Regions from separate parts of the Homo sapiens genome. Here all the other regions are reported to be linked to region 1. The links are microRNA targets in miRTarBase. Many come from high-throughput screens and were not tested one by one. Region 1 holds a microRNA gene; each other region holds the end of a gene's coding sequence.
What was found. Region 1 holds the annotated microRNA hsa-miR-4703-3p (UGUAGUUGUAUUGUAUUGCCAC, at 1,557-1,578, opposite strand). A microRNA usually pairs through its seed, bases 2 to 8, with sites in the 3' UTR of a target mRNA and lowers its output. Matches are read on the target gene's strand: a 7mer-m8 pairs with bases 2 to 8, a 7mer-A1 pairs with bases 2 to 7 and ends in A, and an 8mer does both.

Region 1 (4,360 bases):
AAGAACAAATCAAAGCTTTAGCTTTACAATTTTTATTTCTACAGTGTTCAATAAATATTTGTTGATTGACTGAATGAGTATTTTGCCATTAATTAGCTCTATAACCTTGGGCCAGTTTCATTTAATTTTTCTATGCCTCATTATTCTCATCTATATAATTGAGTTTGATTAAGTCATATTTTTCAAATTATTTTTATGGTTTAAACGCTTTCTTCAAAGCAAATCTTAAGGCCAGGTGTGGTGGCTCACGCCTGTAATCCCAGCACTCTGGGAGGCTGAGGCAGGCACATCACTTGAGGCCAGGAGTTCGAGATCAGCCTGGCTAACATTGTGAAAACCTGTCTCTATTAAAAATACAAAAATCAGCTGGGGGTGGTGGCACACATCTGTAATCCCAGCTAATCGGGAGACTGAGGCAGGAGAATCACTTGAACCCAAGAAGGGGAAGTTGTAGTGAGCCAAGATAGCATCACTGCACTCCAGCCTAGGCAATTGAGCAAGACTCTGTCTCAAAAAAAAAGGAAAAGAAAAAGAAAATCTTAAGCAGAATCTAGCATTTAAAGCAGAAAAAAGTGAGGCTGCTGTAGATGAAATAGGTTTTGGGGCCCTAAGACTCCTCTTTTCCCACCCCCATTTCTGCTCCTGAGCTGCTTTGCTGAACCCACAGGACCCTCTGAGGTACCATTTGTCCAAGCACTGGACTGAATAGAAATACAAATATAAATAGCATTGACTCTCAGACTTGTAAAAACAAAACAAAACAAAAAACTTATAGTCAACTGGATGCAGACAGTCCCAACCTGCAGCCTCTTAACTCTTAGGAATTAAGATTAACCACCCAGACAAATTAATCTGGTTTCTTTGCTTTGGAGGGTATTACATCAACTCAATCAATGTCAATCAATTTTGTAATGCTAAGCTGAATTGGAAATTATATATATATATTTTTGATAAATTAACAATGAACATGACTATATTAATAATAAACAATGAACATGAGAACATGAACAAACTACTAATGAATATATTTTAGTAGACACAATTTCTCAACATATGAAAATGGGGGGAGGAATAAAGGGGATCCTTGGGGAGTGAAAAGGTTCAGAATCACAATGAATTCCTTTTTCTTTCTTTTCATGCAAATAAAATGAGCCAGAGAAAAGTGAAATGGCTTGCCTAAGCCCTCACAGCTTACTTAGTGGCAGATTCTGCATTGGGACCTGGGACTTGTAATTTCCAGCCCAGTGCTCTTTCACTGACCATGTCGTTTCTTTATAAGGTTAGAACTTTACCTTTATGTTTCTGGAATCCCTGATCACCATGCTACAGAATGATAAAACATCCACATTATCTCAGCATTCATTATCTGAGTCCCTGAAGTCTGAAGCAGTATAGGAGACTAAAAGTCATCATAACCTAGAAACGTTTATTTATCAAATGACTGCTTATAAAAGCCACTCAGTCATATCCACTAAACATTAGCTTTGCTTCCTTCCTTCTAGGAGCAACTTTTTTGTTAGGTAGGTATCTAGCTGATGATTGGATTTTTATACAGAGTGGCAATACAATACAACTACAGTGCAAATCAAACACACTATATTTGTACTGTATTGCTAATATGCATAAAGCAAATCTCGCAAATGGTATAGGATTTTATGGGATTAATAAGAGGAAGCTGAATGCTTAGTCCACAGTGAAAGAGGGAGAAAAATATAGCTGATATTGTTATCGAGTAAAAGGGGCTCACTGTCCAATGCACTAGAAGCCCATACTATGACACCATGTTCTTGAGAAAAGAAAAGCTTTGTACTGAAAGTCAATCCCAAGGAGACAGAAGTCAAGCTCAAATCTGTCTCCCTGTGCTGCCTTCAAAACAGTATTTTTATTAGAAAAGTTTCAGGGGGTGGATTCTGAGATTAGCAGGTGATTGGTGGAAGGAAAGCAGAAGTCTGGAAAGTCCTTGGGCATGCTCAGTTATCTCTTCATGCTATCTCATGTATCACATGTGCAAATTCAGGGGGAGTTGGTATGAAACATAGGGTGGAAATTCAGGCTGCGTTGTCAGCAAGCTCCTTCTGCACCGACTCCAGTTGGTCATATTGGTTCCAAAGGATTTCAGCCATTTCTTTTATCTGATAAGCAGAGGGCATTTCAGCCTTTCAGTAGGTGTTTTTTTTTTTTTAATCTGTCATTCTGCAAACTCAAGAATTTGTTAGTCATTGGTTTCTTTAACTCTTTTGGGCATAGTTTCAGTATTGAAGAGTTAGACAAGGGCCAAATTAGGGAGGGCCTTATGGGTTTCATTAATGGTTTTCATCCTGATTGTCTTTTAAGCAGGAGAACTGTCATCAGATTCACCTCTAAAATTTTCATTTTGAAATTGGCAAATACACTAAAATATATAATCTAGCAATCGTATTTCTGTGATTCTATGTCATAGAGGCATATCCACTTGTAGAAACAACACATGTATCAGGTTATTTATTGTTGTATTATTTGTAAGAGCAAAAAATGGATCTGACTCCCATATTCAACAAAAGGGGCCTGGTTAAATAAACAATGGTATGACATGCAGCTGTCAAAACAAATAAGGAAGCTCTCTATGTAGTGATACATATGGAAAGAGCTTTAGGACATATGGCAAGGGAAAGAAAGCAAGATGTAGAACAGTGTATATGGTAGGCTATCTTTTGTGCAGTAAGGTGGGAGAAAATATATTTGAATATGCTTGTATTTGCCTTAAAAACCCTAGGAGGATTTTAAAAATATATGGGTGGAAGGGATATCATCGGAGGGTTGGGGTGAGAAGTGCAGGAGTGAACGCAAGACTTCTCTGAACATCTCTTTTTATAGTGTGTTAAATTTTGAACCTTGTCAATGTAGTACTTAATACAAACAAATCCATTTAAAAATCACTCTGGCAGCTCTATGGAGAGTGGATTGTAGGGAAATAGAGTAGAAGCTGGAGCCGATTTAGGAAGCCACTAAAGTAGTTCAGGCAATGGCTGAAGGTGGTTGGCACTTACTTGGAGGTAGCGGTGGAGCTGGTGAGAAATGGTGAGCTCAAGCTTGTGGAGCCAACTGGACTTGCTGGTGGATATAGTGTATGAGAGAAAAAAAGAAATAAAGAATAATTCCTAGATATTTGTCTTGAGCAACTGGAGGAGAAGAGAAGATAGAGTGAAGGTGGGAAGAAAATGCAAGGAAAACAGAATCGAGGGTTCTGTTTTGGACACATTTTTAATACTGGCATGCCTGTTAGGTGTCGAAGTGAACATATCTACAACTAGAGAAACATCAAGGAGGATAATGACAGCAGAGATGTTTCCAAAAATAATGAGTTCAAAATTAAAGGATTGAGAGGCCCTGGGAAAAGTTCATAAAATCCTTGAACGTTTTTGTCAAAATGTCCATCTTCACTATCATGCTGTACAAATAAAATATAAAGTGGAGAATGTCATTTGGGCTATTTTAAAATTTCATTGGAAAAATTACATCCCCAAATTCCAATCCATTTATTCTTAGTTCTAACAGGAAGTATGTAGATGTCATTATAGCTTACATTTTGTTACATATGAAGTATAATAAATATGATTTCACAGTTTGTATTGCATTTTTCAAGATAAAGCTTGAATGCAAGCTTTTTCACTATTTACTATAAAATGTAAGTGGCCTTTTTGATATCCTGAACAAAATGCAAAAGGACTGCTATAGTTTGAGTGTGTCCCCTCCAAAATTTGGGTGTTGAAACATAATGGCTCGTGATGGCATTAAGAGTTGGTGCCTTTAAAAGATGATTAGTCTATAGTCTCCTCCCTCAAGAATGGAATTAAGGAACTCATAAAAGAGGCTTCACTTAGCCTTTGGCCCTCTTGTCCTTCCCTTCAGAAGATGCAGCAACTTCTGCATTACCAGACACCAAACCCACCAGAGCCTTGATTTTGGACTTCTCAGCCTCTGGAATTGTGAAAAATAAACTTCTGTGCTTTATAAATTACAGGATAGAATCTTGCAGTGGCAAAAACACAGGGAAACAGATATAACAGAAACATTTTCTCTTCAACAGCAAGTTCACATCTTTATTAACAGAATAACTTTCTACATTTCCTAAATTCATGATGGCAGGAGGTGGAGAGTAACAATTTCTCTTACTTTACTGCCCTAGAAGTTAAATAAGTATTACTTGGTAAAAAATGCAAAACTGCTCTCTTAAGAATTCTGCCGTCAACTACTAATTTTTCTTTTGTGCATTTATCCTGAGTAGGACAGGCTTTGGAAATGTTCCAGTTAATACAAGCAGAGACTTACTGGTTGTAGTGTTTGCTGTGATGTCCAATGTGGTAGTCAGCTAGGGTGGCTA
Region 2 (4,360 bases), not on the chromosome of region 1:
CGCAAAACTAGAGTCAGGTAGAGGACTGTTTTAAAAGAGTATTATGACATTTGCAATATTCAAGACATGTCAGCATTCAAGGACAAACTGTCATCAGCACCTGCCAGTATGACCTTCAGTTCACTTGGGCTCATTACGTTGTCTTTAGAAGACATGGCCATGTATTGGGGAGCTCCAAGTTACCATGAACACTTTGCCTCCCTTGACAATACCATACCATTATTAAAAGAAAACTCACTGTTGCACTGACCATGAAACTAGAGTTTAGACGAGACAGTGTTTCTCTCATTTGGATTGTGGCTTTAGTTTGTTTCCTGATGTTTAAGCTAAGTCTTGGCTATTAAAGTCAAAAGGAAAAATGGAAACATCCAAATAAATGCTTGAAAATCTGGTGGACCAGAATGCACAGAAAATTAACTTCAACTTAAAGAAAAAAAAAAAGATTATAGTCCTAGTTAGGATGGGCGACAGAGCGAGACTCCGTCTCAAACAAACAAACAAACAAATCACTACAATATATTTTGTTGATTAAATTTGAATTCTGTTGTCTGTATATATTGAAAACTTATTTTGGTTTATTACCACACAATGTAATGCTGCTTACCTGTTGATGCTTTTTTTTCTCTCCCAGACTTGGCTCTTCAAAACAAGTCTTAGGTAAGACAACAGACAAAGCAGGGCAAATTTGAGTATGTGCCGTTGTTTTCCTTCTATTTTTTTTCTTTTTGGTTTGAAAACATACATTTTATAGAATGGCATGATATAAACTATCCAAACACAAAACACACATGAACACATCAAATGACAGGTCATTTCCTTTTGCAGAAACTGGCTTAAAAAATTGATATTGAAATTTCATAGTTGAAAAAAATATTTCTGAATGTACAAATAAAGCAGCAGTTTTGAATAGAAACAGGAAGTTACCTAGGCACATTCATTAGCCACATGGTAGCTACCTCTTAGCCTCATTGTTGATTGTGTGAATGAGACTTTCTTTGTATCACATTAATACATGTTTTTGGTTATTTTTTCACAAAAATGAAAGAAAGTATGTTGGTTTCATATTCAAATGAATTATGCCCAGGATAATCCTTATTTATACAAAAAGAGTTTAGAGAGTGAAAAAGAGAAACAGAAAATATGGTTCTCATACATGTCTTTTTGTACCCCAAAAAACTTTGGGGCCCACTTTTCAAAGATAAAAACTTAAGTGCCACCTTTATAATGCATGGGAAGCTGAAGGATGGAACAAAAGACAGTATAAATCTAGCATTTTCTCTAAAGCATGAAAAACCATAATGGTGAGTGTGACCAGTTGGAATTTCTCTATAACGCACACTACATTTTCTTGGATACACTTTTGTCTCCAATGTGACCATAAATATATGGAGTCATTCTCTGATTTGGGCTTCCAGTGCATGGGGTTGCAAATAAGAGAACCAGAGTTTACAGAAATAGTAGAATATTGACAATTTCACATGAGTCAACCTTATTACTCATGTTGACCTAATGGGAATATGATTTACCTTTAAAACTTTTTAGTTTTTAAAAAGCCTACCCTGTTTTATAGTACACTTAAATACATTTCCCTGCTTCTTTTGGACTAAGACAGGCTCCTGTGACTGACTTAGTTTTTGAAAAGAGTTTCACCTATTTGATTCAAAGGATTCATTCAGAAAGCAATCTAGTGAATGGTTCACTTAACAAATTCTATTCCATTGTCCTTAATTTCAGGTAAAACTGTAAAGGTTGAACACATATCATCTCATGAATTAAAAATGTAGATATATTTTACAGGTGGGTCAATTTAATTCATTTTAGACAAAGTTTTGCATTGTTCTAAATGCAAGTATTCCTCCTTGGCTTAAATGATTGATCAAACCTAATTCTTTTGGTTCTTATTGATATAAATCATACTGTTCCTTGATTGTCAACTAGCATTTTAAGGACTTCCCTAAATTCCACCAATAGAATTCTCAATCTTATTGGTCCTACATGCCTCAAAGAATTAAACTGAAAGAAAAAGTTCTTTCGGCAACACCAATATACAAAAATACAGTGAAAACAGGCAAAAAGATGATACCCCCTCCCCATTTGCAAAACCAAGGTGACTATTCATGGTAGGTGATGACAAAGACAGAGGTGTAAAGACAAAACCCAGAGGTGTTGTAATTTAGAGGGAAGACTATTGTTCAAATACAATGAGACCTTTCCAGGAGACCACTCACCATTTCACAGAATATCCCTAAGCTTTTTTGACAAATGACCTTTCAGACCAGGTCCAGAAAGTGTCTTTAGCTGAAATTTCATATAAAGAATATTCCACCTGTTAAATAAGCATCTTGGTTTACTAGTGGCCATCAATACAGGTTTCACTATTCAAGACAGCTAGTGAGAAACCAGAAAAGCTCACAGAATTTAAAGCCACTTGGCTCTATGAATCAGTTCATATCCAGAACTCTTCATGCTGAAACTGCTAAACACAGCAGGTACAAGCTTCTGCTATCAATGAATACACATTTAAAGAAAAGAGAGACAACTCCCCCCACCCTCTTTTTTTTTTTGCACTATGTAAAACACCAGTGGAAGGTAGTTTAAACAAACAACAAAGAAAGAACTGGTCCGGCCATGTCGGTCAAATAAATTTTTTTTTTTTTAAAAAGAAAAGAAACGAAAACAACCTCTATCTTCTGGACTGTAATAGGGTGTCACTTCATCTTTGGTATAAAATAGGCCATCCATAGGCTGAATTTGATCACAACTAGGAAAGACTACAGAAATTGTCAACAATTTCTCTATCTATTGCTTTTTTTTTGTTTTTTTTTTTGCACTTTTTGACCATAAGCTCCTATCTACTTAAGTTTTTTTTTTTAATGCTCTTAAGCTAGGTTTTGCAATGTGACAAGCAAAGCTGACTAAAAACTTTGTAAAGCTCATAAAAAAGACTGCAGATAAAAAGCACTAATGCTTTTGCTAGCGATCACGCTTTGTAAATTAAAAAAATCTGCATTCTGCCCCCCAAACACGCATTATTTCTAATGCAGTTGTTTTTAAACCAACCTTAATAACTTTACTGTAAAATGTTTTAGCCTTTTAGAATGATTCATGTCAACACTTAAGACAAAGTTCATGAAAAGTCCCAGCATTTTTCCAATTCTTGCAGTTGCCATGGTTTATCAACAAATTTTCTTCAAATGAAGAAAAACATTTTCATTTAAACTGTACAGTTTTTTCTTCACCCTAAAAACTCATAGTCTTAAACTTCTGTGCCAGTGAAAGCCGGCACAGTATTTCAATTCTTTCTTGATTTTTGTTTTCAACAAGACGTTGACAGCTTGCCTCGAGAGCCTTTGACGTCCTTAAAATTAAGGCAATTAAGATTCAAGATAAACCTTACCTACATATTTCTAAGAAAAAATAAAATAAAAAACCCACTAGATTAAAACAAGAAGGGAAAAAGAGAAAGTAGCTTAATTATTGAGGAAGACAATTTGTTTCCATTTCTATTGCCCACCTCTTGACATCAGGTTTTCTGTTAAAAAAAAAAAAAAAGTATCTACACCTTCAGAAAAATTCTGAATTCAATTCAAATGTTCTTCCACATAAAATATCAACCTTCAATGTTTTGTTTTTTGTAGTTTTTTTTTCCTCTTCTGGAAATTTTTTCTTTAATTAAAAAAATGATGGCAAAAATAAATTGTCAGACCACATGAAGACCATTTGCACAGCACATAAAAACTTTGCTTTCATTGGGTAAGGTATAACACTAAAAAAAAAACAACAACAACAACAAAAAAATGCATTCCATTGACGTCTGTGCAAACTGGAAGCCAACTTCTTGTTCAATGAAGTTTCTTCATTCAAGGCAAAGATTCAGACAGACATTCTTCAGTCCTGTTTATGGTCTGTGAAAACAATTGAATAAGAGTGGTCATTAAATTAAAGTAACTTTGAAATCACCTTCTGTGCCCTTTTCCAATGAGGCAGCTTTAAAAGATACCAAGCTTTCAATGTAACATAGTCACAAAAGCATCATAAAATCATACTGAGTCTATGAGATTGTCAAATTCTGCCACTTTCATTTAAATACAGATTTGGGCCAGAGAGTTTGTTTACATTAAAAATCAAGGGTAATAGCTTATGTTATAGCTCCTTACAGATCCTTTGAGTAATTCTGTTCCTTCAAAACTACTATAGGAATCATCACTAATTCCAGCAACAAATATGAGATTCTTTACTATGCACCCAAAATAACTGGGTTGTATGTTATCTCATGGTATTCATCACGTACATTTACATAAGGCTTATTGCCTGAGGAAATAAGTGAGACAGTTAAGAGGCCAATGCAGTTTTATTCTCT
Region 3 (4,000 bases), not on the chromosome of region 1:
TCAAATCCAACCCTCTCCTTAATCTCTATTTGCAAACCTCTCAGGCATCTCCAAGTTAAAATTTCAAAAGCAGAACTTATTTTAACTACTGCCCCTGAAACCTGCTTGTGTCACTGCCAGTCCAGTCACGATCCACCATTCGGCTGGCCCGTCACTAGAAGTCATTCTTGCCACCCGCTCCCCCACCCCGCTCCGCCCTGCCCCTGACATTCAGTTACCAAGTTCTGTCAGCTCTACCTCTGCCTGTTTTTCCACATCTATCTCTTACTACTGACACCCTAGTCCAGGACGCCATTTTCTTGCACCCAGACAGCCATTCTCCAGCCCTCTGCCACCAGTACATTCTCCACACACCAGCTACAGCGGTAGTTTAAATTATTTCATTCCCGTTTGCAGCCCTTCTGGTGGTCATCAGTTCTCTTCACGAATATTCCCACTCTGCTTTCTCCTTCTGGTACATGTTAGGTTTCTGAAGTTAGGTGGGGCATGTGACCTTCTTTGGTCAAGGAGATGGGAGCAAAAGTGGTATGTATCACTTCAGGCAGAAGCTTTAAGAGCCAACATGCACTTCACCTTTTTCTCTTCATCTGCCATGATGGTCATGATGTTCCAGGTAGTGGCTACTCCGTTAGTCTGGGTTCCAGACCTAGGATATGATGGCAAGATGAATATGTAGCCTAAGTAAGAAATAAACATCTGTAAAGCTATATTGTCAACAGCTCCTGACTTTACTAAGAATGAAATACAAAAAAAGCCTTACCGTAATGAACAAATCCCAATAAAACTAGCTTCTGTGTATCTATCCGATCTTATCTCGGGCCTATCCTTCCTGCTCACTATTCCACTCACACTGGCCCCCTTGCAATTTTTGGAACAAATCAAGCCTGTTTCCACCCTTTCATGCAATGTTCTTTGCATGGTTTGCTCCTTCTTAACCTTCAGATCTCAGCTTAAAAATTACTTCCTCAAAGACATCTCTTTTAACTACTTTATCAAGGTCCCTCGCTATGACTGCTTATCAGAGCACCCTAACCATTTCCTGCTGGGCACTTCATAGTCAATAATAATTGTCTCTTTGACTGACTGTCTCACCCATTAGAATGTAAGCACCTTGAGAAAAAGAGCTGACTAGTATCTCCAGTGAGATTATGCCTTCTATATAGTGCTCTGTACATGGTAGGCACTCAATAAATACTCGTTAAATGAACAAACGAAAGACTCCAAAAGTGGGACATAACACTACAAACATCATTATCATATATCACAGGAGCAAGTGGTGCTGCTAATGGTGAGAAGAGCAAGGGAACTCACATTTACTGAATGACTACCCTAAACTAGCAACTGCTATAGGTACTTTACATGTTATCTCTCCAGCTTCTCATAATCCTAGGAAGCCGATATTAGTATCTCCACTTTATCAATCGGGCAACTAAGACTTGATCTCTTCAACTAGCACAACTAGTAATGGCAGTTTTAACTCAAATTAAAACTTAATCTCCTTCCTCCAAACTATAATACCAGAAGGGGGAAAAAAATCAAACTATTTTATCACTAAGTACTTTTCTATCATGCACACAAATTACATCATATATGAATATAATCCTACTGTAAGAACCAGTTTTTGTTTTTCCTTTTAGTTTTTGAGGTTCATCCTAAAGCCTATTTCAGGTATCTCTTGTTATCTGGGACAAGTGAGGAAAGAATGATGCAGCAAATCCAAACTACAGAGAAATCAGACATTTTGTTGAAACTCTTTTCTTGAAGTCTTTTTCTTCTCAGAGTAAGAAGCTACTATGATTAGGAAGTAGGTCTGTGTTCTGAATTCATTTTATGGAACTTGGGATCAACTTCTATTGGCTTAATGTATCCTCTTGCCCTATCACCAAATGCTGTTCTGCTGGTCACAAAACATGCAAAGCTAAATGGTCTTAGGAGATCTGATCCATAGTCCTGACTATATCAGCAAGGGCTCCAAACACCTAAACAAATGATACCAGCTGGTTGTCTACCTCTGACCACCTATGGGTGAAGTAATGAGTAAACAACAGAAAGGTGGGGCCTGGGTAATTCCCAAACCATTCTACTGTGCTCTGAGGAAACTCACAGGATTCTGAGCAGAAGGGACCTTTGGGATCATCTACTTAAATCTCCTAATAGTTTAGCAAACAGGTCCAGGCAGGCAGTTATCTGCCTAAGAGAAGCAAGTCTCTTGGCTCCCAGTCAAGTGCTCTTTCTATTATACCACACTGCCTCCCCAATCAAAAACTAGTGATTATGTCCAGATAACATTCAGTTTATAAATCCCCCAACGTTTCTCTTTATTCTGCATTATCTAGAGAGCCCTGAGCAAGAACATACACAGTAAAAACAAGAGAGGCCAGAAAAAGTTATTTTAATTTTCTATTAAACATTCTTCTCAAAGCATTATTTTATCCTATATCTCACTGAATTTTAAGAAATAACATTAGTATTAGAAAAACTAGGAAAAAAGATAAATGCAGATAATTAAACTTACATGAAAAAGGAAAATTATAACAAAGGACTGAGAACGTTATAAATTGAAATGAGATTATAATTTGAAAACTGCATCTGAAAGCAAACTTTATTGTTCAATTATTCTTAATGATGGTGTTTTATGACTAATACACTGATTTTTCAATAAGGAAACCCATGTTAAAAATATTTTTATTTTAAAAATAAGCCTGTGTTCAAGCTCTGATCATATTTCTTTTATTTTGATTTGGGAAGAAAATACTGTTTCTGATAGCATGAAATGCAAAATTTTTAGATTTTTAATCTCACTAATTTTAAGAACTATTGAGAAATTGATTAATGACATGAAGTGCACAACACTAATTACTGGCCAGCTGTTGGCATTGTGTTTCTTACTTAGTTCTCCCAAGGAAAACTCTTAAACTGAATCTTCAGCAGAATAATCCTTAAATATACTTTGTAAGCAAAACAAAAGCTTTTTTGTTTACATAGTTCTTTGGATTTTACTGTTCCTAATTTTATTCTGAAACTCAATTTTACCCCAGACCATAATTACCATATTAACTTTGTAATGCACAGTTGTATGCAATTCCGCAAAGCAGTAGTATACCATCAGGCTCTATTCACCCAGAGCATAGGAAAAACAGGATTGGTCACACCCATTAAGAAACAAATCTATCCCACGCTATTTGCCAATGTGTAGTTTCAGTCTAAATTCTGACAATAAAATGTATGGATATATATCTATATATCTCATCTTGATTTTCAAAAGTAGCCAAAGGGAGTTCTTCAGAGCTTAGCGTTGCCTGGCTGAAGCTGAAGATTTTGTAACTTCATAGCGAGACCCATGTTGCCAGTGATTTTCAATTTGCCTTGAAAGAAGGCCTGTGAAGAAGAAAGAAAATTCATTACTTGGTGTTTTTTTGTTTTAAGATTGCTGATGTTTCTACACTATCTAGCCCTGAGATCATTTATTTATCCAGGTCACATGACTTTCTCTAAAATATGAAACTTGGCTTTCTGGAATAGATTTGGAACCACATTCTTCAAAAGGAAGAATTTGTAAAGGCCACACTTTTTGCAGATCAGCAGAAAGGAGCAGCTTTCCCAAATTTCTCATAGAAATTGAGCCTGTTTTCACCTGTCCTCCTCAAAGTGGGTTCATACTACACTGATTATGTTTTAAAACATTCCATGTAGGTGGGAAATATGAACTGAAATTTTTAGCAGGCTGCTGAGAGAAAAAGCATACACAAAAAACACAGAAACTCTTGGGATTCAATCCAACATGCATGTGAATGAAATGCCACCAATGATAAAGGACTTATCCCTACAGAGGGCACAGAGCCTGCTGAGAATGAGGTGCTTGTGTTACTCTTTGGCTCAACAAGAAAAATCAAACCAATCTGAAGTGCAGAGCCACAATTTGTTCCATTTAACAACTGCCTGGGATTAGATCACATGATGTTTGCTAAATTTACCATGTAACAAAATCCCAGGAAAACTT

Region 2: miRTarBase lists RBMS3 as a target of hsa-miR-4703-3p. Seed matches in the 3' UTR shown: 7mer-A1 at 3,634-3,640.
Region 3: miRTarBase lists SCP2 as a target of hsa-miR-4703-3p. Seed matches in the 3' UTR shown: 7mer-A1 at 3,192-3,198.

What each region holds. Positions count from the first base shown.
Region 1 is chr13:51,549,855-51,554,214 of GRCh38, reverse strand. It overlaps MIR4703 (microRNA 4703), which reads right to left and starts at 1,626; the gene lies at 1,548-1,626. LOC124903175 (a long non-coding RNA gene) reads right to left here. Exons shown (of 4, transcript XR_007063804.1): 2 at 4,309-4,360; 3 at 3,027-3,090; 4 at 2,064-2,132.
Region 2 is chr3:30,003,401-30,007,760 of GRCh38, reverse strand. RBMS3 (RNA binding motif single stranded interacting protein 3) reads right to left here. Exons shown (of 15, transcript NM_001003793.3): 15 at 1-3,905. The coding sequence ends at 3,899. Among named protein-coding and RNA genes, the nearest start is that of RBMS3-AS1, 71 kb to the right of the region's middle.
Region 3 is chr1:53,049,987-53,053,986 of GRCh38, reverse strand. SCP2 (sterol carrier protein 2) reads right to left here. Exons shown (of 16, transcript NM_002979.5): 16 at 2,289-3,378. The coding sequence ends at 3,283. Among named protein-coding and RNA genes, the nearest start is that of PODN, 10 kb to the left of the region's middle.